Linked DNA regions of Homo sapiens. The protein of the gene in region 3 purifies or fractionates together with the protein of the main gene of each other region. This does not show direct contact. Each region holds a gene or a part of one and is shown on either strand. Other genes may lie near its edges. The genes, in order: KDELR3, PLTP, DPEP2, QSOX1, ARSK, POGLUT1 and POGLUT2.

What was found.
Region 1: the proteins of DPEP2 (region 3) and KDELR3 purify together in Homo sapiens (affinity purification with mass spectrometry; 2 studies listed by BioGRID and IntAct, with this or other methods). This does not show direct contact.
Region 2: the proteins of DPEP2 (region 3) and PLTP purify together in Homo sapiens (affinity purification with mass spectrometry; 2 studies listed by BioGRID and IntAct, with this or other methods). This does not show direct contact.
Region 4: the proteins of DPEP2 (region 3) and QSOX1 purify together in Homo sapiens (affinity purification with mass spectrometry; one large-scale study listed by BioGRID and IntAct). This does not show direct contact.
Region 5: the proteins of DPEP2 (region 3) and ARSK purify together in Homo sapiens (affinity purification with mass spectrometry; one large-scale study listed by BioGRID and IntAct). This does not show direct contact.
Region 6: the proteins of DPEP2 (region 3) and POGLUT1 purify together in Homo sapiens (affinity purification with mass spectrometry; 3 studies listed by BioGRID and IntAct, with this or other methods). This does not show direct contact.
Region 7: the proteins of DPEP2 (region 3) and POGLUT2 purify together in Homo sapiens (affinity purification with mass spectrometry; one large-scale study listed by BioGRID and IntAct). This does not show direct contact.

The regions. Positions count from the first base shown.
Region 1 is NC_000022.11:38,466,566-38,470,933, forward strand, and holds the start of KDELR3 (ER lumen protein-retaining receptor 3), read left to right. Parts: upstream 1-1,530; 5' UTR 1,531-1,668; coding exon 1,669-1,759; intron 1,760-4,368.
Region 2 is NC_000020.11:45,905,627-45,909,517, reverse strand, and holds part of PLTP (phospholipid transfer protein isoform a precursor), read left to right. Parts: coding exon 1-2; intron 3-1,613; coding exon 1,614-1,677; intron 1,678-1,762; coding exon 1,763-1,826; intron 1,827-3,158; coding exon 3,159-3,250; intron 3,251-3,891. UniProt on the Homo sapiens protein: Mediates the transfer of phospholipids and free cholesterol from triglyceride-rich lipoproteins (low density lipoproteins or LDL and very low density lipoproteins or VLDL) into high-density lipoproteins (HDL) as well as the exchange of phospholipids between triglyceride-rich lipoproteins themselves.
Region 3 is NC_000016.10:67,996,502-68,001,015, reverse strand, and holds the start of DPEP2 (dipeptidase 2 isoform 1 precursor), read left to right. Parts: upstream 1-1,531; 5' UTR 1,532-1,599; coding exon of another isoform or gene 1,600-1,641; exon of another isoform or gene 1,642-1,749; intron 1,750-4,514.
Region 4 is NC_000001.11:180,196,343-180,200,233, reverse strand, and holds part of QSOX1 (sulfhydryl oxidase 1 isoform a precursor), read right to left. Parts: coding exon 3,197-3,891; 3' UTR 2,902-3,196; coding exon of another isoform or gene 2,893-2,901; 3' UTR 1-2,892. UniProt on the Homo sapiens protein: Catalyzes the oxidation of sulfhydryl groups in peptide and protein thiols to disulfides with the reduction of oxygen to hydrogen peroxide. Plays a role in disulfide bond formation in a variety of extracellular proteins.
Region 5 is NC_000005.10:95,602,745-95,605,886, forward strand, and holds the end of ARSK (arylsulfatase K precursor), read left to right. Parts: intron 1-492; coding exon 493-782; 3' UTR 783-2,358; downstream 2,359-3,142. UniProt on the Homo sapiens protein: Catalyzes the hydrolysis of pseudosubstrates such as p-nitrocatechol sulfate and p-nitrophenyl sulfate. Catalyzes the hydrolysis of the 2-sulfate groups of the 2-O-sulfo-D-glucuronate residues of chondroitin sulfate, heparin and heparitin sulfate.
Region 6 is NC_000003.12:119,478,869-119,482,759, forward strand, and holds part of POGLUT1 (protein O-glucosyltransferase 1 precursor), read left to right. Parts: intron 1-308; exon of another isoform or gene 309-806; intron 807-1,039; exon of another isoform or gene 1,040-1,182; coding exon 1,183-1,304; intron 1,305-3,891. UniProt on the Homo sapiens protein: Dual specificity glycosyltransferase that catalyzes the transfer of glucose and xylose from UDP-glucose and UDP-xylose, respectively, to a serine residue found in the consensus sequence of C-X-S-X-P-C.
Region 7 is NC_000013.11:102,792,236-102,796,126, forward strand, and holds part of POGLUT2 (protein O-glucosyltransferase 2 isoform 1 precursor), read right to left. Parts: intron 1,572-3,891; coding exon 1,366-1,571; intron 1,186-1,365; exon of another isoform or gene 1,184-1,185; coding exon 1,106-1,183; intron 1-1,105. UniProt on the Homo sapiens protein: Protein glucosyltransferase that catalyzes the transfer of glucose from UDP-glucose to a serine residue within the consensus sequence peptide C-X-N-T-X-G-S-F-X-C. Can also catalyze the transfer of xylose from UDP-xylose but less efficiently.

The DNA.
Region 1 (4,368 bases), on a different chromosome or scaffold from region 3:
CTGTAATCCCCGCACTTTGGGAGGCTGAGGCAGGCAAATCATCTGAGGTCAGGAGTTCGAGACCAGCCTGGCCAACATGGTGAAACCCCATCTCTACTAAGAATACAAAAATTAGCCTGGCGTGGTGGCGGGCGCCTGTAATCCCAGCTACTTGGGAGGCTGAGGCATGAGAATCGCCTGAACCAGGGAGGCAGAGATTGCAGTGAGCAGAGATTGTGCCACTGCACCCCAGCCTGGGCCACAGAGCGAGACTCTGTCTCAAAAAAAAAAGGACTGCCTTTCCCTGGGAGGAAAAGTAGGGAAAGTAGGGGGCATAGGGAGCCATAGAAGGGTCTTGACCACTGAAGTGACAGATTTTTATCACAGAAAAGAGGCTGGCCATAGTGGCTTATGCCTGTAATCCCAGCATTTGGAAGGCTGAGGCAGGCAGATGGCCTGAGCACAAGAGTTCGAGACTAGCCTGGGCAACACAGTGAGACCCCATCTCTGTTTAAATACATTTGTCATGGAAAAGCCTCTCTGGTTATCTGTGGCAGGAGGTGGGAGTGGGAGGAGGTCCGTTATTTAGAGAGAGATGAGGGCGCTGAATGGGAGGAGGGCTTATTCAGGTCAAGGAGGGGAGGCTAAGGGCCCTCAGCTCACCTGGTCCACTCTTTCAGACGCAGAGACTTATATCCAGAGGGGGTGGTGGACCTGCTCAGACCACACAGCCCTGGGAGGACTCCCTCCCACCAGGGACCCTTCACTCCCCACCCTTCCTGGTGCTCAGCCCTCCTGGGTCTCTCCTGTCCTGTGTGTCCCTGTTTAACATCCTAGTAACACCAAGAAGAGGGAAGGCACGAACGAGGGCCCTGGATCTCCCTGACCAGCTTGACCTCCTGCCTACCCACAACAACCCGATTTTACAGGTGAGAAAATTGAGACCAAGAGAGAGGAAGGCCCACCGACCCAGGCTGCAGCCGAGGTCAGTCTGATTCTGCTGCTGAGTGGTGTGCCATTACCATTGTCCACCTGCAGCAAGATCGGGTCCCGACCGGGTGGACAACCAAATTAACAGACGGAGGTGGGGACTCCGCTTCCGGCTCGCCCCGCCCCACCCCACTCTCCCAGGGAGGGAGCTCCAGCTCCGGGAAGATGAGGACAATAGCAGGAATCGCCCCACAGGGTACTTCCACGTGCTGGCTCCTGCCAAGCGCTGGCACCAGTGTTATGGGGCCTGTGTACAGATGAGGAAACTGAGGCAGAGATTGGGGCTTGGTGGCAGGCCTCCAGTTTCTGCGGAGGGAAGGCAGAGGGCACTTGGGGCATGGGCGACATGGGTCGTGGCGGGCACCCGGCGCACACGGCAGCCGGGCGCAGGCCAGAAGCCCCCCCGCGTCGCCGGGCCGCCCAGTCCGGGAGCCGGGCGCTGGGATGGGCGGGAGGCGGGATCTCCGGGCCGCGCCGCTTCCTGGCTCCCCACCCTGCGCCGGCGGCCGCCCTGGCCACGTCACCGCCCGGCCAAGAGTGCGTGGGCGGCGGCGCGCGGGTGCGATCGCGGAGCTGTGAGGCGCAGGCAGGGCTCTGGGGCACCTAGAGACCGGGGCCGGAGACGTGGCAGCCGCCCTGCCCGCCAGAAAGTTTCCTAGAAGTTTGCTGGGCGCGGGCGCACGACTGACTGGCTGGACCATGAACGTGTTCCGAATCCTCGGCGACCTGAGCCACCTCCTGGCCATGATCTTGCTGCTGGGGAAGATCTGGAGGTCCAAGTGCTGCAAGGGTGAGGGGCGCCTGGCAGGGAGGTGCGGGACCCCCTCTCTGGCCAGCCTCATGCCCCTGCGTGCAGGGCAGGGCGCTCCAGGTGTCTGCTCAGGGTGGGGACTCCGGCGTGGGGGTCCTTGAAACTTTGCGGAGCTCCACTTCCAAAAACAATGTAAAGTTGTATAAAATCAGAGGAGGAGGACCCCTCGAGATGATGGGAGGCGGGTGGGTTTGTTCCTGCACAGACGCCCCCTCAGGTTGGCAGTGTCACTGCTGGTTGGAAGAGGGGGTTATAAGGGAGGTGACAACCCCTCCCTCCCACCAGTTACACCCATTGTTCCTTCCACCATCGACTGTGGGGAGAAGCAGATATGCACTCAGGAACGGCCCACGATTCTCAAGGTCTTCTCTTCCCTGCCCCTTCCCAGACCCCACCCCGCCCCCCAAAGTGAGCCCTCGTCCCTCCCCTGCCTGCATGTGTGGCACCGGTGGCTGTGATGTGGCAGGAGGGCACCAGCCGGGCTCAGGCGGGTATGGAGCTGCCTCTAAACGGAAGCCGGGGAAGGCTGGAGGGGTCCCCTGTTTGCATTCTGGCTGCCCTGCTGGGGGTTTGGAGAAGCTTGGAGGCTGGACTCGCGGTCGCCAACAGATCCAGAGCCACGAAAGGCTGCCAGAGCCTCCTCCAGCCATCTTTGTCCACCGGCATCCTCGTGGTGCCCTCCCTGTGCCTGGCACTGGGTGTGCAGAGGCAGGAGTGAGCTCAGGCTCCTCGTGGGGCTGAGGAGGCTGAGAAGGCTGAGAGTGGGCCCCGAAGGCCCTGTGGAAGGAGCAGCTCCGTGCTGGTCCCGGAGGACGAGCAGGTGTCAATCCAGGAAGTGTGTGCTGTGGAGGGCTCCGGGGATGAAGAGGCATGGAGGTCACCAAGCACCGGGCATCCCCCGGGAAGGGTGGGCAGCCAGATTTGGGGTGGTCTGGAGGGAGATGAGTCCAGGAGGGAGGCTGGTCCAGATGTGAAAGGGCCTTTTCTGCCAGGCCAGGGAGTTGGGTCTGGGGAGCCCTTCATGGTTTGGGAGCCGGGAAGGGGCCTGGAAGGGGGCCTGAACAGGTTGCTTTGCAAGCTTTGAGAGAAAAGGCACAGAGCAGGGGGAGGCCTGGCAGGGTGGGGGTTGGTGCAGACATGAGCAACAGTACGGTGTGGAGGGAGTGGTTCTAGGCCTGGAGGCCATTTGGGTTTGGGGTCTCTGGAGAGACAGGTACAGAGACAGTTCAGGTTCTTCCTCAGGGGAGGTGGCCAGGAATGCTGAGTGGGGGACCCGGAGCAGCAGGCCCTGGTGAGGGGAGAATCAGCTCCAACCTCTTCCTGCACTTTTGCAGAAGGCCCTGCACGGAGTGAGCAACCATGACCAAGAGGGGACACTGGTACCTGGCCGCTGTCTGCCAGACACTGCTGGGCACCTAGAATACAGCCCGGACAGCAGAGGCCCAGCCCTGGTGGAGCTGACTTTCTTTTATTTATTTTTTATTTTTATTTTTTAACAGAGTTTCGCTTTGTCCCTGAAGCTGAAGTACTGTGGTGTGATCTCGGCTCACTGCAACCTCCACCTCCCAGGTTCAAGCGATTCTCCTGCCTCAGCCTCCTGAGTAGCTGGGATTACAGGCACGCACCACCACACCCGGCTAATTTTTGTATTTTTAGTAGAGACGGGGTTTCGCCATGTTGGCCAGGCTGGTCTTGAACGCCTGACCTCAGGTGATTCACCCACCTCGGCCTCCGAAAGTGCTGGTGCTGGGATTGTAGGCGTGGGCCACTGCGCCCACTTCTTTTTTTTTTTTTTTGAGACAGAGTTTTGTTCTATCCCCTAGGCTGGAGTGCAGTGGCGCAATCTCGGCTCACTGCAACCTCTGCCTCCCAGGTTCAAGCTATTCTCCTGCTTCAGCCTTCCAAGTAGCTGGGATTACAGACGCCCGCCATCACACTCAGCTAATTTTTGTATTTTTAGTAGAGACGGGGTTTCGCCATATTGGCCAGGCTGGTCTCGAACTCCTGGGCTCGAGTCACAGGTGTGAGCCACCATGCCCGGCCAAGTGGTGGACCTGACTTTCTAGTGGTAGGAAGCCATCAATAAACAATAGTCCTAGGAAACTGAGCAAATGACACGGTTTGTTGGAGGCCATAGTGAGTACTATGGGAACAGAAAAAGGGCAGCTGGGTGGCAGGGATGGGCCTGTGTGTGCACAGAGAGAAGTCAGAGGTGATGGAGGCAGGGCCTGGTATGACCTCAACAGACCCAGCCCCAAAGACCAGAGACTTGGGCTTCACTCTCACTCCTCCCCTTGACTCGCTGTGTGACCCTGGGCCTGTGTTTTCCCATTTGTCAAATGGGAGTGAGGGCTGCCCCTGGCAGTGGGGTCCACCTATGCTTAGTGGACCCCGGAGGGACTCTGGCCAGTCCAGGCTCACATTGTCCTCTGTGTCCCGGGTCTCCATGTGCAGCTTCCTGGTGGAAATGATTGTTTTCAAAAGTGTGAAAACTATTGTGCTCAAGATCACCGGGGGGCTGGGCACAGTGGCTCACACCTGTAATCCCAGCACTTTGGGATGCCAAGGCGGGTAGATCACATGAGGTC
Region 2 (3,891 bases), on a different chromosome or scaffold from region 3:
AAGTAAGCCCCAGCCCCAACCCCAGCTCACCCTTTTCGAGCCCCACAGCTCATCTGCCTAGCGCAATGCAAAGTGCATAGGCCTGGGAATCAGACCAACTGGGTCCAAAGCTCAGCTCTGTCACTTCCTGGCTGTGTGAACGTGGCCAAGTCACTGAAGCTTGGTGCCTCAATATCCTCATTTTATAAGATCCTATTTTATAAGATCGTTGTCAGGATTATTTGTGTTGGTATATGTAAAAAATATTTAGAACAAGGCTGGCTGTGGTGGCTCATGCCTGAAATCCCAGCAATTTGGGAGGTCTGGGCGGGCGGATCACAAGGTTAACAGATCGAGATCATCCTGGCCAACATGGTGAAACCCCATCTCTACTAAAAATACAAAAATTAGCTGGGCGTGGTGGCACGTGCCTGTAGTCCCAGCTACGTGGGAGGCTGAGGCAGGAGAATCGCTTGAACCCGGGAGGCGGAGGTTGCAGTGAGCTGAGATCGTGCCACTGCACTCCAGCCTGGTGACAGAGCAAGATTCCATCTCAAAAAAAAAAAAAAAAAAAAATTTAGAACAGCACCTGGCATATGATAAATGTATATTTAAGTGCTGGCCACTTAGATAAGAGTAACTGTGAGGACTATCTGATATGCACATTTGGCCATGTACTGGATTCTCAATAATTGGTATCTCTAAATAATAATAACAAAAATAATAATTTTTTTTTTGAGAGGGAGTCTCACTGTGTCACCCAGCCTGGAGTGCAGTGGCGCCATCTCGGTTTACTGCAACCTCCACCTCCTGGGTTCAAACGATTCTCCTGCCTCAGCCTCCCAAGTAGCTGGGACTACAGGCATGCACCACCATGCCCAACTACTTTTTTTGTATTTTTAGTAGAGACAGGGTTTCGCCATATTGGCCACGCTGGTCTCAAACTCCTGATCTCAGGTGGTCTGTCCGCCTCGGCCTACCAAAGTGCTGGGATTACAGGCCTGAGCAACTGTGCCCGGCCTATTTTTTTATTTTTGCTGCTGAGAAGGGGATATTGTTCTTGTTCTGGAAGAGGATGGGGGAGAGAAGATGATGGATTATAACCTGGTGTTGGTACACTGTCAGTATTATTTATTCATCAAACAAAGTGTATGCCAGTCCCTGAGGATGCAGGAAGGAGCTCAGAGCCTATCTGGAGCAAAAAACATTTGATATCAGGGCCTGGAGAGAAGGACTAAGAAAATGCTTTGGGGATTCAGAGGAGGGGAATCTGGGAAGACTGCCTGGAAGAGGAAGCATCTGAGCTCAGATGGGAAAATACAGAGTAGGAATGCAGAGGGCGGAAGGGAGGGCATCAGTAAGCCGATGGATGTGGGGATGCTCAGAGTGGGTTTGAGGCAATGTGGGTGGATTCATTTGACTGATGGGACCAGAGAGTAGGTCAGGAGGTCTTGAGAATTAGACTGGAGAGGGAATTTGGGCCTGGTTCTTGGAAAACCTACGTGGAGGAGCTGTTATTCAGGCTGAAGCTGAGGACTCCTACTGCCACTATTTCCCTAGTCACTGATTTCTCCTGGACCTGGACTGGGGTGGAGGCAGGTTCTGGGCTCATCCGGCCTCTCCTCTCCTCACAGGAAGGTGTATGATTTTCTCTCCACGTTCATCACCTCAGGGATGCGCTTCCTCCTCAACCAGCAGGTGTGGGCAGCGACAGGTCGCAGGGTGGCAAGGGTGGGCATGCTCTCACTTTGAGAAGGCCCTGACTCTGGCTCCCACCTCGCAGATCTGCCCTGTCCTCTACCACGCAGGGACGGTCCTGCTCAACTCCCTCCTGGACACCGTGCCTGGTGAGTTGGTGGCGGGTGAGTCTGGGTGTGCAGCTGTCATGCAGCACCTCAGAGCAGGCCCCTTCCGAGCCCTGCTGTTGAACAGTCCTGGGTTCAAATGTGGCCCCTGGAGCTGACTTGTTGTGCGATTTTGGGTGAAGTGCTCATTTCTGTCTGGGCAAAGTGCTTGTTTCCTCACTTGGCTGGCAGTGCCTCCTCCTGGGGTTGCTGTGAGGATTATCTGAGAGAATAGTTGTCAAGGTCCTCAATATGTGCATGCTGATCACTGGCATCCCATTTGTCTTCATCACCTAGCATCTAATAGGTGCTCAATTAACATGAATTCCCTTTTTCTTTTTCTTTCTTTTTTTTTTTTTTTTGCACGGAGTCTTACAGTCTCACTCTGTTGCCAGGCTGGAGTCCAGTGGCGCGATCTCAGCTCACTGCAATCTCCACCTCCCGGGTTCAAGCAATTCTCCTGCCTCAGCATCTCGAGTAGCTGGGACTACAGGCGTGCACCACCATGCCCAACTAGTTTTTTGTGTTTTAGTAGAGACGGGGTTTCACCATGTTGGCCGGGATGGTCTCGATCTCCTGACCTCCTGATCTGCCCACCTTGGCCTCCCAAAGTGCTGGGATTATAGGCATGAGCCACTGTGCCTGGCCATGAATTCCCTTTTTCTAAGCCATGACCTCTGTCTACTGTGGGGCAAAGGTATTTTCCCATCACACCTAACACACAGGCATGGGAAGCGAAGGAGGAGGTAGGAGAAACCAAGGGAAAGGAACCTCATGCCATCTTTTTTTTTTTTTTTTTTTTTTGAGATGGAGTCTCGCTCTGTCACCCAGGCTGGAGTGCAGTGGTGCAATCCTGGCTCCCTGCAACCTCCACCTCCCAGGATCAAGCGATTCTCCTGCCTCAGCCTCCTGAGTAGCTGGGATTACAGGCGCCCACCACCATGCCCAACTAATTTTTGTATTTTTAGTAGAGACGGGGTTTCACCGTGGTGGACCAGGCTGGTCTCGAACACCTGACCTCAGGTGATCCGCCCGCCTTGACCTCCCTAAGTGCTGGGATTACAGGTGTGAGCCACCATGCGCGGCCCCCCCATGCCATCTTGTTTAGTTATTTTTTTGAAACCTCTATAGTGGTAGTAATAATAATAACTAACATTAATGAGCACCTAACTACACACCAGGCCCTAAGTGCTTTCCACATAAAACTAATTTGACCCTCATGACAACCCTGTGAAGGATGTATCCTCATTTTATGGGTGGGCCTCTGAGCCTGGAGAGGTTAAGCACCTTATCCCACATCACACAGCCGTGAGTGACTTGAGCCCCTTCCTGCAGTGCGCAGTTCTGTGGACGAGCTTGTTGGCATTGACTATTCCCTCATGAAGGATCCTGTGGCTTCCACCAGCAACCTGGACATGGACTTCCGGGTGAGCTGCTTGGGCTGGTGTATGACCTCTGACTTCCTAACAAGACCTCTTTCTCTGCTAAGTTGCAAGATTTTACTTCTTAAAGCACAGCTCTGATGAGGCCACTCCCATTACTGAGAATGCTATGGCTCCCTGTTACTACAGAATTAGGTTCAGCCTCCTGGGTCTGGCATTTGAGCCCCTGTTAATCTTACCTGGCCCCACCTTTTATATCTCATCCTGTTTCTTTGCAGCTGCTCTTTCCCAAATTGGACCCTGGCTTCCCACCTCAGGGCCTTTGCTCATGCACGGCCTTTCCCCAACTCCCCCGAAGGAGCTGGACATAAATTTCTATACAAATAATCTCATTTCATTCTCTCACAACCCTGTGAGTCAGGTACTAACATCATCCTAATTTTAGGAATGTGGAGACTTACTCATAGAGGTGACGTCACTTGCCCAAGGCCACATAGCCAGTGTGTAGCCACTACCTTTGGTCTCCCAGAGGAGTATAGCAGTTTCAGAGTGCAGACTCGGGAGCTAGAATCAGTCGGGTGCAGTGGCTCATGCCTGTAATCCCAATACTTTGGGAGGCCCAGGCGAGAGGATCGCTTGAGCCCAGGAGTTTGAGACCAGCTTGGGCATCATAGTGAGACCTCCTT
Region 3 (4,514 bases):
CATGGTGAAACCCCATCTCTACTAAAAAAAATACAAAAATTAGCCAGCCTGGTGGTGCATGCCTGTAATCCCACGTACTTGGGAGGCTGAGGCAGGAGAATCGCTTGAACCTGGAAGGTGGAGGTTGCAGTGAGCCGAGATCGTGCCCTCGCACTCCAAAAAAAAAAAAAAAAAGCACCCCAGGAATGTTGGACAGAGAGGCTGGCGGGGTAGGGGTTGGTTGGTAAGGCTTGAGCAGAAGGTTCTAGATGCATTCAGGAGATAAAGATGCATTTGGGGTTATTGCACTTCTCCTAGAAACATAAACATTGACTTCCTTTTGTGGAAGAAAAATGTTATGTTAGCTATTTGACGTTTCAGGAAGGGTGGCTTCAGCTTGGTGATTGGAGGATGTTTGTCTACAGTGGCCAGGCTGCTTTCTGGCTTGGAAGACTATTGTTTCTTGGGAATTGTCTGTATCAGACATCATGGGAGCAGATCCAGGGCGACATCAAAGGGAAGCATGAGTCTCCAGGACCAGAGGGGCTTGGATGCAGATGATCATCATCTGGGCACTGCTGGATACTGAGTAAGCCCCAGCTGCACCCCACCTCTGCGCTCTGAGCATGGGAGGCAGCCTGTGCAGCTATAACTCAGCCTGACTTTTTCCTTCCCTGCATACTCTTGAAATACACTGGAGATGAGTAGGGGCGAGTGAGCTGCACACCAGAATAAGTTTGGTCCTTGGAGCAAACTGTTTCTACTGCTGCCTCCTCTGCAGGTCTTGATTTATGCAAACACTGCATAGAAGAGGAAGTAGAGGGAAAAGCTGTTCACCCACCTACTCCTTCCTGGTAGCAAGATTTCCTATCCTGGCCTTGCCTCAACAGCCCTACCAATTGGAGGCTGAGGTTGTGCCAAGGCTCTATGGGGGGACGTAGCATCACTGAGGTGGCCAGATTTTGGAGGACAGGAAAGTTTGTGCTATTTGCTGAGACTGGAGAGGCTGGTGAGAGCAGACTCTCCATGAGTTGAAAGCCAAAGAAAGAAATTCGGTAGATTTCTGCAATGAGAAGCCACGGAAGAACTTCAGGCAGGAGGATGCATTGGATCTTGTTTTCGTTTTGTTAGAGATGGGGTCTCACTCTGTCGCCCAGGCTAGGGAGCAGTGGTGCCATCGTCTCTCACTGCAACCTTAAACTCCTGGGCTCAGGCGAACCTCCCACCTCAGCCTCGTAAGTACCTGGAACCACAGGCATGCACCACTTTTTTTTTTCCTTTTTCTTAGAGTTCTCATTATGTTGCCTAGACTGGTCTCAAACCTCCGGCTTCAAGAGATCCTCTCACCTCGACCTTCAAATTACTGGGATTACAGGCATGAGCCACCATGTCCTACCAGACTTTGTTAAAAGAGGAACAGGCCAGGCATCGTGGGCTCACATGAACACTCATGCCCCAGAAGTAAACAAGTGTTAGCCAACCAGGAGGCCTATCCTCCCCCTAACCTCACCCAAAGCCATCTCTGTGCCCTCCCCCTTGCAGGGGAAACAGCACACACTAGTGAAATCTTGTCTTAGTGTGTCCGGAATTGGTGGGTTCTTGGTCTCACTGAGTTCTAGAATGAAGCTGCAGACCCTCGCAGTGAGTGTTACAGCTCTTAAGGTAGCGCGTCTGGAGTTTGTTTCTTTTGATGTTTGGATGTTTGGAGTTTCTTCCTTCTGGTGGGTTTGTGGTCTTGTTGGCTCAGGAGTGAAGCTGCAGACCTTCGTGGTGAGTGTTACAGCTTTTAAGGCAGTGCGTCTGGAGTCGTTTGTTCCTCCCAGTGGGCTTGTGGTCTCGCTGGCTTCAGGAGTGAAGCTGCAGACCTTCGCGGTGAGTGTTAAAGCTCATAAAAGCAGCATGGACCCAAAGAGTGAACAGTAGCAAGATTTACTGCAAAGAGCAAAAGAACAAAGCTTCCACAGTGTGGAAGGGGACCAGAACAGGTAGCCACTGCGGGCTCAGGCAGCCTGCTTTTATTCTCTTATCTGGCCCCACCCACATCCTGCTGATTGGTAGAGCCGAGTGGTCTGTTTTGACAGGGTGCTGATTGGTGCGTTTACAATCCCTGAGCTAGACACAAAGGTTCTCCACGTCGCCACCAGATTAGCTAAATACAGAGTGTCGACACAAAGGTTCTCCAAGGCCCCACCAGAGCAGCTAGATACAGAGTGTCAGTTGGTGCATTCACAAACTCTGAGCTAGACACAGGGTGCTGATTGGTGTGTTTACAAACCTTGAGCTAGATACTGAGTGCCGACTGGTGTATTTACAATCCTGAGCTAGACGTAAAGATTGTCCACGTCCCCACCAGACTCAGGAGCACAACTGGCTTCACCCAGTGGATCCCGCACCAGGGATGCAGGTGGAGCTGCCTGCCAGTCCTGCGCCATGCGCCCGCACTCCTCAGCCCTGTGGTGGTCGATGGGACTGGGCGCTGTGGAGCAGGGGGCGGCGCTCACCGGGGAGGCTCCGGCCGCACAGGAGCCCATGGAGGGGGTGGGAGGCTCAGGCATGGAGGGCTGCAGGTCCCGAGCCCTGCCCCCCCGGGAAGGCAGCTAAGGCCCGGTGAGAAGTCGAGCGCAGCGCCTGTGAGCTGGCACTGCTGGGGGACCCAGTACATCCTCCGCAGCCACTGGCCCGGGTGCCAAGCCCCTCATTGCCCGGGGCCAGCAGGGCCCGCGGGCCGCTCCGAGTGCGGGCCCGCCAAGCCCACGCCCACCCGAAACTCCAGCTGGCCCGCAAGCGCCGCTCGCAGCCCCGGTTCCCACTCGCGCCTCTCCCTCCACACCTCCCTGCAAGCTGAGGGAGCTGGCTCTGGCCTTGGCCAGCCCAGAAAGGGGCTCCTACAGTGCAGCGGTGGGCTGAAGAGCTCTTCAAGTGCCGCCAAAGTGGGAGCCCAGGCAGAGGAGGCCCCGAGAGCGAGCGAGGGCTGTGAGGACTGGCAGCACGCTGTCACCTCTCATTAGGAGCTGCCAATATCAGTGGCACAGACCTGAGCACAGGGATAATTTGGGGTCAGAGGCTACAGTCTAAGTTAGCTAGATGCTGGCAGTGGGCAGAGTGGAAACAAGGCAGAGGCGGGGAAACTCAGGGCCTGACTCCAGAGCCGACCTTAAGTGTCACCGCTGATTCCTCCTTACTGTCTCCCACCAACCCTGCTTCAAAGCATCTCCAAATCCTGGGTTCAACTTCCAAACATGTCCCAGGAATGTCTCCTTCCTGTTCCCACTGCTTCTCCCCCTTACAGGCCCCTTCATTCCTTACCCCTCCTGATCTCCTGGCCTCCAGCCCATTCCCTACAGAAAAGCCATACCTATTTCTTCCATTTTAAAAAATGTGAGCTGGGCGCGGTGGCTCATGCCTGTAATCCTAGCACTTTGGGAGGCCAAGGTGAGTGGATCACGAGGTCGGGAGATCAAGACCATCCTGGCTAACACGGTGAAACCCCGTCTCTACTAAAAATACAAAAAATTAGCCGGGCGTGTTGGCGGGCACCTATAGTCCCAGCTACTCGGGAGGCTGCGGCAGGAGAATGGCCTGAACCCGGGAGGCGGAGCTTGCAGTGAGCCGAGATTGTGCCACTGCACTCCAGCCTGGGCGACAGAGCGAGATTCCATCTCAAAATAAATAAACAAATAAATATAAAAATAAAAAATTTGGCCAAGGGTCGGGGGTGGCTCATGCCTGTAATCCCAGCACTTTGGGAGGTCAAGGCAGGCGGATCACCTGAGGTCAGGAGTTCGAGACCAGCCTGGCCAACATGGCAAAACCCCATCTCTACTAAAAATACAAAAATTAGCCGGGAGTGGTGGCATGCGCCCGTAATCTCAGCTACTCGGGAGGCTGAGGCAGGAGAATCACTTGAACCCAGGAGGCAGAGATTGCAGTGAGCCAAGATTGCACCATTGCACTCCAGCCTGGGCAACAAGAATGAAACTCTGTCTCAGAAAATAATAATAATAATAATAATAATAATAATAATAATAATAATAATATCATTATCTATTTTTTTACAGACAGGGTCTTGCCCTGTCACCCAGGCTGGAATGCTATGGTGTTATCATAATGCTCACTGCAACTACAAGTGTGGGTGTGTCTGTGATTCGCTTTGTATGGTCCCCTCAAGGCCACATTTGAGGACTGAAGTTGCATATCATGGAAAATTGTGTTGTCTGGCTTATCTCCTACAGAGACAGTGCTCACTTTTACTGGCTCAACTCAGCCTGCCTCTGCTGAGCTAGCAGGTACCCCAAGTCCCAGGAGGTCAGACATTCGGGCTCTGGAGAGAAGCTTAAAAAAAAATGCAAAAAGTTGGCCGAGTGCGGTCGCTCACACCTATAATCCCAGCGCTTTGGGAGGCCGTGGTGGGTGGATTACCTGAGGTCAGGAGTTCAAGACCAGCCTGAACAAAATGGAGAAACCCCATCTCTACTAAAAAATACAAAATTAGCCAGGTGTGGTGGCACATGCCTGTAATTCCAGTGACTTGGGAG
Region 4 (3,891 bases), on a different chromosome or scaffold from region 3:
AGGTGGGTAGTTTATCTCCAATGACACATGGGGACAAGGGGATAAGTTATCTTGCCCAAAGTCACACAGCCAGTGAGTGTTGGAAGCTGGATTCAAACCCAGACGTCAGATTCCAGAGTCCATTCTCTTCAAGGCTGGACTTGACCCCACCCTGACCCAGGGCCCAGATTTGAGGGCTCTCTCTGAGCCCACCTGACTTTCCTCCAGGGTCAAGGCTGGCTGGGTCCCCTGGAGCCCTCTCCTCCACCCCCACACCCAGAGGACAGGCTGCATCAGGGGTCTTCCCACCCCCACCCCATACCAAGGCTGCTGGAGAGGAGCCTGGCCCAAGGTGGCGCTGCCCCTCTTGGACCTCCAAGAATGCCGCATGGAGCAGCCCCTCAGGGCTGTAGTCCCTCTACACCTACATTGGGCCCCTCCAGCCTGGACCCCCACCCCTCCCACTTCCTGGCTTCCCATCCTTCAGGTCTCGCAGAAGCCTCCTCAACACCCTCCCTGCTTGGTCTCTATCCTTCAGAACCCTCATCACAACCTGTCCTTGCCTCTAGAACGGAAGCCCCATAGCAGCAGGGACCACGTATCTGTTTTAGCTTCAGTTTCTAGCCCAGTGCAGCATTGTGAAAATCCTTAGTAATATTTTTAAAAAGTTTTCGAATTCTACTTTTCTTTGCTGACTTGGCATGTGCTTTCTCCTCTGCCCGTAACCCCCGTTCCTCCTTATTTCCTTGCTAACACCTACTCGTCTTTCAAAGCTCCATGCCACTGTCTCCTTGAGGAAATTGTTCCTGTGCCCCCAGTAGGTAACACACCAGACAGAGGCGAGATTCTCTATCCCGCCCCAGACAAGGAGCCTTTGCTTTGCAGGGCTCCCCTTGGGACCCTCTCTTGCCAGGAGAGCCTCTAGAGAAGCCATCTAGAAGGGCATTCAAGACTCAGCAAGCTCCAGCTCCCAGCCTGGCAGACTGGGTGGGGGAGGGCCCAGCTGGTGGGCGAGGCTGGTTTATCGATGTTGCCGAGAGCCCTGGGGAAATCAAGGTGAAAGGCAGCCACGCTGCTGAGGAGGCCCACCCGTTTATCAACCAGAGGGGCTGGGGCCGGGCGAAAAGAGGCTTGGCTGCCAGAGGCAGCTGTGAGGTGGGAGGTCCACACCACTCCGTGGACCTGGAGGCTGGGCTACACACTGTGCAGCCCGGGCTGCTGCGACAGTGTTTCCAACATGGCGCTAATTCTAGGTAACTAAGTTTGGCTTTAGAAATACCGTCACTGGAGCCACAGGGCTTGCTGACAGAAATCCCCAGCACTTGGCATTGGGCAAGGAGCCCTTAGGGGGTGAAGGGCAGGCTTATTCAGCGGCCTTGGTGCAGTGGGCACACAGGGCACCGGCCCTGGGAGCCTCTGTCTTCCTCTTGCAGGCCAGGGTTGCCTCCTGATTGTGGGTTCCTGTCTGTCTCTCAGGCCCCCAGCCAGGGCCAGCCCAAGGGAGCAGGGGGTGCAGAGCACAACCAGGAGGATGGAGCCAATGGGTGCCTGGAGCAGGGGCACAGAGAGGGAGTCCAACCCAGGAGCCCAGCAAGGCGCTGCAGCTAAAGAGGTCGAGGGAAACATGCAGGGAGACTGCCATCCCTCCCCAGCCCCAGCTGCCCCATAGCAGGAGTGGCCTTGGCATCCCACCTGCTCCACATAGCACCCAGGCCATCTGAGCAGAGTGAAGATGTCAAAGAGAAAACCAAATCGGATTGAGGCTCCTGCTCCCCCTTAATGAGGTTCATTATCAGCAGCTCTGATCCTTGTAAAACCCAGCAGGCCGGATTAGGGGCAGGCTCTCTAATCCTGGCTGACTCCTCCCCACCGAGTGGCCAACCCTGCAGCTCTGACAAACAAGCCCTTGCTTCCTGGAGGAGCTGGAATTAGGCAGGTGCAGACAGGCTTCTCCCTCACCAGCCCAGGGCACTGAGGCAGGAGCTCTCAGGGAGGATTGGGGCAGGGGGTGGCAAGGCTGCACATCCAGAGGCCTGTCTCCGTGCATGAAAAGGCCATGGGGTTTGGGTGCAGACAGTTCTATGGGCAGTCTGTGGCCAGGAGCTGTGTGTGCTGAGGGACATCGAGTCTGGCTGCATTCCAGGTGAGGCTGGTCTCTGTGCATTCTGTCCAGACTGGACACTAGGTCTCCAAGTAGCAAGTTAAAGAACACACCAATGCTTGCCTTAACAAAAATAATTTATTCCACACACCTCCCAAGGCAGGGGGTAGCGTGGGAATCAAGCATGTGTAAGGCACTGCCCCCGCCAGACCCTTCTAACTTCTGCACACTGGAAGGTGAAACCTGGAGAGAGAAGACACTCCCCTCCCTAGCTTCTACCTGGCACCCTCCAAAGATGAGCATTCATCTTGGAGACCAAAATAAAAAAGGACAAAAGACCAGGCTCAGAGGGAGCAGAGCTCAATGGGGGGAAGTGAAAGCAGCCATCTTCTCCTGCAGCTAAGCCAGGGCAAGGCACTAGAGACCCACATCCTTCCCATGCCACCAACTCGTCAGGTCCCACCAAGCAAGCCACTCACCCTACAGCCCAGCAACCATGGCTTGCCTCACCTGGGAGACCAGCACGACTTCCAGAAGCTTCCAAACCCCACCCTGAAGCCAAACCCCACCCAGGAGGTCTGAGGAGCTGGAGGCTGGCCAGGCATAGAGGGCCCGGGGTGGTCCTTCCTCCCAGGGTGCAAAGGCTTCTTCATTGTCCGGAAGGGAGCAGGGTGGGCGGAGCCCCAGCAGCTAGTGAGGAGTTCCATTCCAGCCCACCCAGCTGGGGGACCCTCCTCTGGCTTCACTTGCCCCAGTTGAGGGCCAAGACCAAGCAGGAGAGACTGAGGCTCCAGTGAGAATGAGGCAGGACTTCAAATAAGCTGAAAAACAGGAATGTGGTGCTAAGAGGCCAGGGACTGAGCTGCCCTATGCCCACTGCCCGGGGCTGCCCTCCCTGCACAGCAGGGGAACCTGGACCCTGCTCCTGTCTTTTGTGTCAAAGGAGCTCTCTGTCCTAGCAACCCCAAGAAGCTTCACTGGAGCAACTCGTTTTCCTGAATTTCCCACACTTCTAGGCCAGACAAGGAGCAAGGGGTGGGAGGGGAGGGAATGGGGTCAGGGGGCTTGAGGTGCCTAGAGATGGCAGCTCCCTCTCCCGCCTCCTCCCCAGGTGGTTCAGGCTGCAGGGTGGCCAGCATGGCCCTTCAGGGCCCTTATCTTGGCCTGGAAGTAGGTGTACATGGCCAGCAGGCCCATGAAGGACAGGGAATAGAGCCCCACACAGAGGCTGATGTCCAGGTAAGAGAAGCCCCCTCCCAGCACCTGCAGCCACTGGCCTCGGCCCCGTCCAGCTCGGGCCTCCAGCTGGCCCTCAGGGATGTCGACCAGCTGCTTGGAGCTGCGGCCCACGCGCCTGACCTCCAAAGGGCCCCAGAGGCGGTTCTTCTCAGCCCTGGACTCAGCCAGCAATGCAGCCCCTGTGTCTCGCTTGCTCAAGTGCCACTGCCCAAGCGGCTGCTCCTGCTCATTCCTCTGAAGCTCTGCCATGTGCTCAGGAGGCTCCTGGCCTGGTGCAGCTCTGAGGCCAGGGTGCAGCTTCGGGGGTCGACTTGCCTCAGGTCCCTCAGCCGGCACATGTGGGGTGGTGTTTGTGGGGGACTTCATCATCTCAGGCTTCCCAGGGTCCAGAGTTGAATTCCGGCTTTCCAGCTCCAGGGCTCCCATCGCCAGCTCTGGGGCGGCTGCCACATTCTGCACATCCCTCCGGGCAGCTGACCCAGCTGCAGGGAAGTCCAGGATGATGTTGCTTGGGGAGAAGTGGGCCTTGAGGAAGTTGAGGGTGGCTTCCACGTCCCACACGGGCACATCCA
Region 5 (3,142 bases), on a different chromosome or scaffold from region 3:
GATGAATGTAACTTTCAAAACTCCAAGCATAAGATACTAATATATAAAGAAAACTAGGACTAAGTAAAGTTGCAGGAACATGACTTGTCTATATAAAGAATTTGTAGAAAGTTTGAGGCTGTTAAAATGGTACAGTATAAGCATTACTGTATTCATTTCTGCCTGTCAAAGTAGGCAGGACATCAAAAACAGGAAGAACTTGTTCTAAACCAGCTTACTAATGATAAAAGTTTGACTTTTTCTGGCATTTAAGAAAAGAAAAAAAAAGTGGGATAGCTGGACAATGGTAGGAAGGAGGGAATTTGGGCATGCAACATAGGGTGTTTAACTCCTGGTATGTTATTTTACCATTTATACTGTCCTTCATTTTACTACACTAACAGGAACTGAAAATCTAAAAAAAAAATCTAATACATTACCTGTCATAATGACATTCTAAAAAAATTTTTAGCAGGTCACTATTTTGACAGATACTTATTTTTTTTCTTTCAGATCTTTCCTCGGATCCAGATGAATTAACAAATGTTGCTGTAAAATTTCCAGAAATTACTTATTCTTTGGATCAGAAGCTTCATTCCATTATAAACTACCCTAAAGTTTCTGCTTCTGTCCACCAGTATAATAAAGAGCAGTTTATCAAGTGGAAACAAAGTATAGGACAGAATTATTCAAACGTTATAGCAAATCTTAGGTGGCACCAAGACTGGCAGAAGGAACCAAGGAAGTATGAAAATGCAATTGATCAGTGGCTTAAAACCCATATGAATCCAAGAGCAGTTTGAACAAAAAGTTTAAAAATAGTGTTCTAGAGATACATATAAATATATTACAAGATCATAATTATGTATTTTAAATGAAACAGTTTTAATAATTACCAAGTTTTGGCCGGGCACAGTGGCTCACACCTGTAATCCCAGGACTTTGGGAGGCTGAGGAAAGCAGATCACAAGGTCAAGAGATTGAGACCATCCTGGCCAACATGGTGAAACCCTGTCTCTACTAAAAATACAAAAATTAGCTGGGCGCGGTGGTGCACACCTATAGTCTCAGCTACTCAGAGGCTGAGGCAGGAGGATCGCTTGAACCCGGGAGGCAGCAGTTGCAGTGAGCTGAGATTGCGCCACTGTACTCCAGCCTGGCAACAGAGTGAGACTGTGTCGCAAAAAAATAAAAATAAAATAATAATAATTACCAATTTTTCATTATTTTGTAAGAATGTAGTGTATTTTAAGATAAAATGCCAATGATTATAAAATCACATATTTTCAAAAATGGTTATTATTTAGGCCTTTGTACAATTTCTAACAATTTAGTGGAAGTATCAAAAGAATTGAAGCAAATACTGTAACAGTTATGTTCCTTTAAATAATAGAGAATATAAAATATTGTAATAATATGTATCATAAAATAGTTGTATGTGAGCATTTGATGGTGCTCGATGAGTTACTTGTATTTGATGGGATTGTTTGGATGTATTTAATGGGAGTATTTGGAGTATTTAACGGGATGTAAACCCTGGATGTACCTGATTTTGTTACTGTTTTATTTTAATAGGTAATATATATACAGGGTAAAAGCTTCAAATGGTACAAAAGGGTTAACAGTGATCGTGAAGTCTCTGTCCTTTCCCTCTTCCCTGCCATCCAGTTCCCCCTCCAAGAAGCAAGTACCGAAACCACCTGCTTACGCATTTTTAGAGATTGGCCACAAATTTATAAACAAATGTATATATTCCTTTCCCCCTACACAAACGGTAACATACTGCACACATTGTTCTGCATGTTGCTTCTTTTTCCTTTTTTTTTTCACTTAACAGTAGATATCTAGAGGTGAAATTACTGAGTCAAGACTATATTTAGCAAAATTACACTAGATACTACAAATTACCTCTAAAGAAGGTATACTAACTGATAATCTCACCATCAATGCATGTCTTCTTATCCTTTGCCAACCTAACAGATAAAAATGTTCTATTTTTATTTTTCTTTTTATGAGTAACGTAGAGCATATTTTCATGTATTTAACAGCCACTGGAATCTGCTTTACCATGGCCTTTCCTATTTCTATTCTTTGCCTATTTTTCTGTTGGTTGTTGGTCTTTGTTTTGTATTACAGGTGTGCTTTAGATATTAGCTTTTTGTAAGAGATCCTGCAAATATCTTCTTTCCAGTTTGTCATTGTCATTTGTCTTTTGACTTTGTTCTGGTATTTTTTGATATGTAGAAATTTTTATTTTCATGTAAGCAAATTTATGAATCTTTGTACACCATAAGTATATACAATTATGATTTGTCAATTAAAAATATTAGTACAAAATTTACAGATCTTTGCTTTTGTGGCTTTTGGGATTTTGTATCATATTTAGAATGGCCTTCTCCACTTGTCATTTTTTTTTTTGAGACGGAGTCTCGCTCTGTCACCCAGACTGGAGTGCAATGGTGCAATCCCGGTTTCAAGTGATTCTCCTGCCTCAGCCTCCCAAGTAGCTGGATTACAGGCACCCGCCACCACACCCAGCTAATTTTTTGTATTTTTAGTAGAGATGGGGTTTCACCGTGTTAGCCAGGATGGTCTTGATCTCCTGACCTGGTGATCTGCCCACCTAGGCCTCCCAAAGTGCTGGGATTACAGGCGTGAGCCACTGCGCCTGGCCTCCACTTGTCTTCTTTTATAATTTTATTTTTCACCTTTGGATCTTTGACCCAGCTGGAATGTATTAAACATATTAGAAATCTAACTTTGGTTGTTTTTTTAAATATGCCTACCCATTGATCTTTTATTGAGTAAACTGTCTCTTCTCCCATTCGTAAAAATGTCACTTCATCATATAATACCTTTGGTTGAGTACATTATCTTTTCCTCCATTGATTTGCGATGCCATTTTTATCTATACCAAAGTCCCATTTATACTTATGCCATTTCTGAACATTTTATTTTCCACTGGACCATTCTATTTTCTTTGTTTCTGTTTTGTTTTTTGTTTTTTTGAGACAGGGTCTTCCCTTGTCACTCAGGCTGGAGTGCAGTGGCACAATCACTGCTCACTGCAGCCTCAATCTCATAGGCTCAGGTGATCCTCGCACCTCAGCCTCCCTAGTAGCTGGGACCGCAGGCACGCGCCACAAAACTCAGCTAATTTTTT
Region 6 (3,891 bases), on a different chromosome or scaffold from region 3:
GAGGCCGAGGCAGGTGGATCAAAAAAAAAAAAAAAAGGGGGGAACATATGGCTTTAAACTTTTTTCTTTTTTTTGAGGCAGAGTCTCACTCTGTTGCCCAGGCTGGAGTGCAGTGGCGCGATCTCAGCTCACTGCAACCTCCACCTCCCAGGTTCAAGTGATTCTCCACCTCAGCCTCCTGAGTATCTGGGACTATAGGCACCTGCCACCATGCCCGGCTATTATTTTGTGTGTATTTTTTAGTAGAGACAGGGTTTCACCATGTTGACCAGGCTGATTTCAAACTCCTGACCTCAGGTGATCTACCCGTCTCGGCCTCCCAAAGTGCTGGGATTACAGGTGTGAGCCACCGTGCCCAACCTCAAACTTCTTTCAAAAGATATGTGATAACACCCCTTCTCATTTTGCTCATCCATACTTCTGACCCCGATCAGTGAATAACCAAGAATTTATTGACCAATCAATGTGAGCCCAACAGTGCCATAGTATGAGATAACACTAGCCAATATTTATCAAGTATGTACAATGTGCCAGCTACTGTTCTAAGAATTTTACGTGTATCAACTCATTTAATATTCAAAATAAACCTTTTAGTTAGATCATATTATTGATATTATTGTTTCCCCCATTACAGTGATAAGGAAGCTGAGGCATAGAACCATTAAGTAACTTGCCTAGAGCTGTAAAGAGGTGGAGTCAGAATCCAAACCCATGTGATCCACATCAGGAGCCCACACTCTTAACCATTGCATGTATTTCTTGGCTCTTACTCTCAAAAAAACCCATTGGGAAATAACCAAAAACTGGTAAGACAGTGTAAACTCTTAAATGTAATAGTTAAACAATGAGAGAGCTCTGTGATTATTCAGAATTGGGCATATTGTTTCCTTAAATTGGAAATCTTAACAGTATATATCCTCTAGAAAAACAGAATTTGGGGGAACTGAAAAAGCTGACCTTTAATGTGATTCTGAATTCTGGAATTCAGTGAGCCCATGACTTTTAATCCATAGTCACTTTTGCCTTTTAATGTCTACAGGCTAGACTTTGGAAAATAGGGAAAATATATCTTTGACAATGTGACACTAAACCAAGGCTGTCCAGATCCTGTGGCATGATTGCAGTTGCCTCTTTTCACTGTTCCAAGACTGATTTAGGACGACCTGTCTGTTTTTGTTGAAGACATCAGAGTACCATGATATCATGTATCCTGCTTGGACATTTTGGGAAGGGGGACCTGCTGTTTGGCCAATTTATCCTACAGGTCTTGGACGGTGGGACCTCTTCAGAGAAGATCTGGTAAGGTAGGTCCTTTAAAGAGGTTTTATTTTTTCTCTTTCTGGGTTTTCTTGAAATAAGCCATAGAATATAACCAATTATTTACTTTTTTTTTTTTTGAGACGGAGTTTCGCCCTTTTTGCCCAGGCTAGAGTGCAATGGCGTGATCTCAGCTCACCGCAACCTCCGCCTCCCAGGTTCAAGTGATTCTCTTGCCTCAGCCTCCCGAGTAGCTGGGATTACAGGCATGTGCCACCACACCCGGCTAATTTCGTATTTTTAGTAGAGACGGGGTGTCTCCATGTTGGTCAGGCTGGTCTTGAACTCCTGACCTCAGGTGATCTGCCCACCTCAGCCTCCCAAAGTGCTGGGATTACAGGCGTGAGCCACCGCGCCCAGCCTATTTATTTTTAAGTGACTAATTTTTAAGTTAAAAATTAAAGACAGAAAACTGTAGTGTAAACAATTTTGTACGTGTCTAATAATATTTACATATCCATAGAAAGGGGCAGAATAGTCTATCCTAAACTATCAGCAATGCCTCTTTGCAAGGGATTATCAGAGACTTTTGTTTTGTATTTTAAATTTTTCTTTCTTTTTTTTTTTTTTTGCGACACAGTCATGTTCTGTCTCCCAGGCTGGAGTGCAGTGGTGCTATCGCGGCTCACTGCAACCTCTGCCTCCCAGGTTCAAGCAATTCTCTTGCCTCAGCCTCCCGAGTAGCTGGGATTACAGGCATGTGCCACCACACCTGGCTAATTTTTTGTATTTTTAGTAGAGATGTGGTTTTGCCATGTTGCCCAGGCTGGTCTGGAACTCCTGGCCTCAAGTGATCCACCCACCTCGGCCTCCCAAAGTGCTGGGATTACAGGCACGAGCCCCTGTGCTCAGTCAGTATTTTCAATTTTTCTATACTTAAGATTCTTTAAATAAGAGTGCATTCTTTCATAGTAAGAAAAAATGAATGACCTCGTCATAGGGGGGATAGAAAATTATTTGGAAGAATATAAACATACTTGGCAATTGAGAGCTAAGTAGTTTAGGCAGGGCTGAGGGAGCATAAATGTCCCATAAGCATCTCAAGTACAAGCTTATTCCAGATCCTCTCTGATTCATGACTGAGACATGCCTTGGCCTGTTGACTCCATCCTGCTATCATTTCAGAATTTAGATTGTGTAGCTCATCCAAGCTGTAGGTATTTCTTACCTAGCTACATTTTACATCATGATTCAAACAACTTTGGTGCTTAATTAGAGAACTTCCGGAAACACAGTCATTATAGGCCTTCTCTCAGGTATAAGGAAAGCAAACAATTCAACCTTGTTTCCATAAATACCTATCACCTCTCCCAAGTGTGGCTGAAGATTCAAAGAGGATTAAGGTAATATTCCCTTCCTGAAGAAACGTACAGGGCTGCAGTCCTCAGTGGTGGGTAGAGCCCTTTGTTAAAAAACAAACTTCTCTAGTGGGTATAATTTGGAAATTTTAAAAAATAATAACTTAGTCTCATATTTTACAGAACTGGAACTAGAAATTGTCTTTGTCCAGCCCTTTATTTCAGGGATAAGGGAATGAAGGTACAGAAAGGTTTAGTGATCTGGTCAAGGTCAGAAGCAAATCTAGGCCTAAAGACCAGGTTTCCAAGTGCATTATCCAACCTACTTTACTGGTTAATATTCCTTGTGTTTTCCTGACATTGAGACTGTCATTTCTTGTTTATTTTTGGGTTTTGAACATAATTTTGAGAGGGGGGGAAAAAGGTGTGGTTTTTTTGTTTCTTGGTTGTTTTTTAAAATTTTTTGTAGAGACAGGTCTTGCTATGTTTCCCAGCCTGATCTCAAACTCCTGGGCTCAAGTGATCCTCCCACCTTGGCCTCCAAAGTGCTGGGATTACAGGCATGAGCCACCACACTAAGCTGGAAAAAAGGTTTTAAACTTTTTTTTCCCTAAGTTATTCTTGGCCTTGGCCTTAATTTTCTAATCCTTTCCCCCCCTCCTCAGGTACTTGCAAATACCCTTTTCACATTCTTCTTTTTGTAGCTCTTTTCCCACCTGCCATGCAGCTGCTTTGTTTTCAAAATCTTTAAAAACATTTTTACTGATTATGAAACCTATATATGCTCATAAAATTTTACAAATATGTATAACTCAGGCAACTTTCCCCCTAACTTATTGGTGTATCTAAGTAATCTTTCCATGTCTTTGTTTCATGTCAGTACATATGAAAGAGTCACTTTATTTATTTGTTTGTTTGTTTATTTTTAAAAGGCAGGATCTCACTATGTTGCCCAGGCTGGACTCAAACTCCTGGGGTCAAGGTGTTATCCAGTTACTCCACCGTGTAGTTATTAATACCATTTTCCCCCAGGTAAACTAGTAAGCAATTTTTAGGCAGATAGAATGTTTTAAAGTCTAATCTTATATGAATACTTTTTTCTTTTGATACCTTCCCATTTTATTCAATTGAATTTATTCATGGTTATAGAAATACAATTTTGTTTTTTAGAACCCTCTGTTTAGAATCTCTAATGATGTTCATTTGTTACCTTGAAAATTTAATAATCTGCTTGTTTATCCATCTGCACTGATGTCTGCCTGCCACTGTTCATTCT
Region 7 (3,891 bases), on a different chromosome or scaffold from region 3:
TTCAACAAATAAATATAATAGATTACAAATAAATATACATTTGGTAAAAATGTTGGTAGAGTCTTTCACATCCACCATTTTAACATTACTTTCAAACCATTCCACTAGAACCCAACAAAAGCCCATTATCCCAAGGAATGGGATTCAGTACAAGGCAAGTCATCTTTGGACTCAGAGTTAGTTTAGTACCAAAATAATTTTATGATAAGGCATTTTTCTTTCCTCTATAAAATATTGTGTCCCTGCAAAAGATATGCTGAAGTCTTAAATCCCAGTGTCTCAGAATGACCTTATTTGGAAATAGGGTTGTTGCAGATATTAGTTAGCATGAGGTCATACTGGAGTAGGCTGGGCCATTAATCCACTATGCTGTGTCCTTATAAGAAGAGACCCAGAGACATGAGGGGAGAAGCCCACGTGATGACAGAGGCAGAGATGGGAGGATGCAGCTGCAAACCAAGGAACACCAAAGATGGAGGGCCACTGACAGCAGCCAGGAAGAGGCAGGAAAGGAAAGGAAAGGATCATCTCAGAGGGAGCTGGCCTCCTGACACTTTAATTTTTTTTGGGGGGGGACAGGATCTCACTCTTGTCACCCAGGCCTTGGGAGTGCAGTGGCGTGATCTCGGCTCATGCAGCCTCGACCTCCTAGGTTCAAGCGATCTTCCTGCCTCAGCTCCCCATTAGCTGAAACTACTACAGGCTAATTTTTGTATTTTTTGTAGAGACAGGTCTTCACCATGTTGCCCAGCCTGGTCTCAAGCTCCTGGGCTCAAGTGATCCACCCGCTTTGACCTCCTAAAGTGCTAGGATTACAGGCGTGAGCCATGGCACCTAGCTGACACTTTGATTTTGGACATCTGGCCTCCATAACTGCCAGAGAATACATTTCTGTTATTTTAAGGCTTCCAGTTTGTAGCACTTTGTTACGGCAGCCCTAGGAAACAAACGCAGGTACCTGAAATAACAGAAAGCTTCAGAATAGTATTATCATAAGGCTCCAGAAGAGAATACCCTGATAGTGTATAATTTGTATTTTGAAAAATTATCCTGTAAAATCTGGGCTTAAATTATCTATTACAGCTAAGAGAAAATATATACTTACCTTTCTAGTCAAAGAAAGTAGTATGGCATCCATGAAAATTCTAAAACCTACATGTTCACCATGAGTCTTGATATAAACCTAAAAGAGAATTTACCATTTATTATGTTAGTCTAAAGACGCTGGCAGACTTCACTGAGGAAAAGCTTGTCACAGTGCTCATTCGAATGATGTTTATAAAATGATTTAGCTAATTGTAGCCAAATGTTCAAAACAAGAAAAAAAATCACTAAAACAAACAAGCAAAAAATCATGTGTTGTACCTTGTTATCCTTTAAGGTGTAGTGACATAGGCTCTGCCTCTGTCCAAATCTTTTTGGGATTTCTACTGCAATCTTTTCTGGATCCACAGCAGGGAAATGTGCCAGATCTCTCTGAATCTGAGCAATGGTTTCAGGGCAGTTCATCTCCCGTAGCCAGGCTGCACTATCTTGCAGAGGACAGTCACAGTTCTCATGGTAAACCGGCCCTATTTACATAAGAATAACAAAGTACAACAGTGATCATTTCACTCAGCATTCGAAACTTGTAATAAACATCTATAATGTGGCTTCATGAATTTTGCTTAGTTACATAGGAAGAGCATTTTCATTGAAAACACATTTTAAGAGAATTACAGGCCAGCAAGGTTGGCTCATGTCGGTAATCCCAGCACTTTGGGAGGCTGAGGCAGGAAGACAGCCTGAGCCCAGGAGTTCGGGAGCAGCCTGGGCAACACAGGGAGACCATGTCTCTACAAAAAATAAAAAATTAGCTGGGTGCGTTGGCATGCACCTGTGGTTTCAGCTACTTGGGAGGCTGACGTGGGAGGATCACTTGAGCCCAGGAGGTTGAAGCTGCAGTGAGCCATGTTTGCGCCACTCCATCCTGGGCAAGACAGTGAGAGCCCGTTTCAAAGAAAAAAAAAGTAATACATTTTTACTATACTGGGGCATTGCAAGTAAGTCAGCCTTCTACTCTGACAGCTCTTCACAGTGAAGTTTTGTGATATTTTCATAATAATAAGGTCTACTTTGCATGAGTTCAAAAGAAAGGAAATAGAGGCTGGGTGCAGTGGCTCACGTCTGTAATACCAGCACTTTGGGAGGCTGAGGTGGGTGGATAACTTGAGGTCAGGAGTTTGAGACCAGCCTGGCCAACATGTTGAAACCCCATCTCTACTAAAAATACAAAAAAGTTTAGCTGGGTATGGTGGTGTGTGCCTGAAATCTCAGCTACTCAGGAGGCTGAGGCATGACAATAGCTTGAATCTGGGAGGTGAAGGTTGCAGTGAGCGGAGATTGTGCCACTGTGCTCCAGCTTGGGGGACAGAGTGAGACTCTTGTTTCAAAAAATAAAAGAAAGACAACAGATACTTGGTTTATGTCTATGGTAATATTACAGCTCATTATTCCTTATGTTTTGCAGACTGAAGAATAACCAAATACTGGTAAAAGGGTATCAGAGGAGCATACCTATTTTAATGAAAGACAAAAGTGATATGATTTACTATTTTGATGGTCTGTTATACAAACAGGTTCTTAAAGTGTCTAAGGTACTTTTCTCAATAAGTAAATCATCAATAACAGCAAAAATAAACAAGGAACTGCTATTCTTTTTTTTTTTTTTTTTAAGAATTATTAAGGAGGAAAAGTAGGCTGGGTTCTTGGCTCATGCCTGTAATCCCAGCACTTTGGGAGGCTGAGGCGGGCGGATCACGAGGTCAGGAGATCGAGACCATCCTGGTCAACATGGTGAAACCCCGTCTCTACTAAAAATACAAAAATTAGCCAGGTGTTGTGGCGCGTCCCTGTAGTCTCAGCTATTTGGGTGGCTGAGGCAGCAGAATCGCTTGAACCCGGGAGGCAGAGCTTGCAGTGAGCCGAGATTGCACCACTGCACTCTAGGCTAGTGACAGAGCGAGACATCGTCTCAAAAAAAAAAAAAAAAAAAAAAGCAAAAGTAGCTGGGTACAGTGGCTCACGCCTGTAATCCTAGCACTTTGGGAGACTGAGGTGGGCAGATCACTTGAGCTCCAGGGTTCGGGACCAGTCTGAGCAACATGGCAAAACCCTGTTTCTACAAAAAATACAAAAATTAGTGGGGCATGGTGGTGAGTGCCTGTAGTCCCAGCTACTCATGCAGCTGAGGTGGGAGGATTGCTTGAACCCAGGAGGTCGAGGCTGCAGTAAGCAGTGATTGCACCACTGCACTCCAGCCTGGGCAACAGAGCGAGACCCTGTCTCAACAACAACGGCAACAAAAAGAAGCAAAAGTAATTCTCAAAACAGTCCACTTCACTAATTTTATAACAAATTAATTACAGTCTGCACTGAGGTTTTTACTGTTATTCCTTTTTATAATTCTCAGATCCCACCTAACCCAGGCAGTGGCTGACAATGGAATATCTTTTTAAGGTTTAGTGGGTGATACTGTACCAGGCTGTACTGGCAGAATGTAGGAAAGGAACCTAGACACTCTTGAAAAGTGTTTACCTTTTCTTACTTCTCTGCAGAGTTCACAAAAATAAAAAAAAAAAAGTTTACTTTTCTTGGGGTTGTTAAGGGGGGGACAAGATTTCTGCCTTTGTATATACACTGCTTCCCTACTGTCTTGTGGTACTGTCGCCTGTAAGAGGGAAGGAGATGGCTCTAGGTAATAAAACTGTACTCTCATCCTATATAAGAAACATCAGAATGGCCGAGCATGGTGGCTCACACCTGTAATCCCAGCACTTTGGGAGACTGAGGCAGGCAGATCATGAGGTCAAGAGATCGAAACCATCCTGGTCAACATGGTGAAATCCTGTC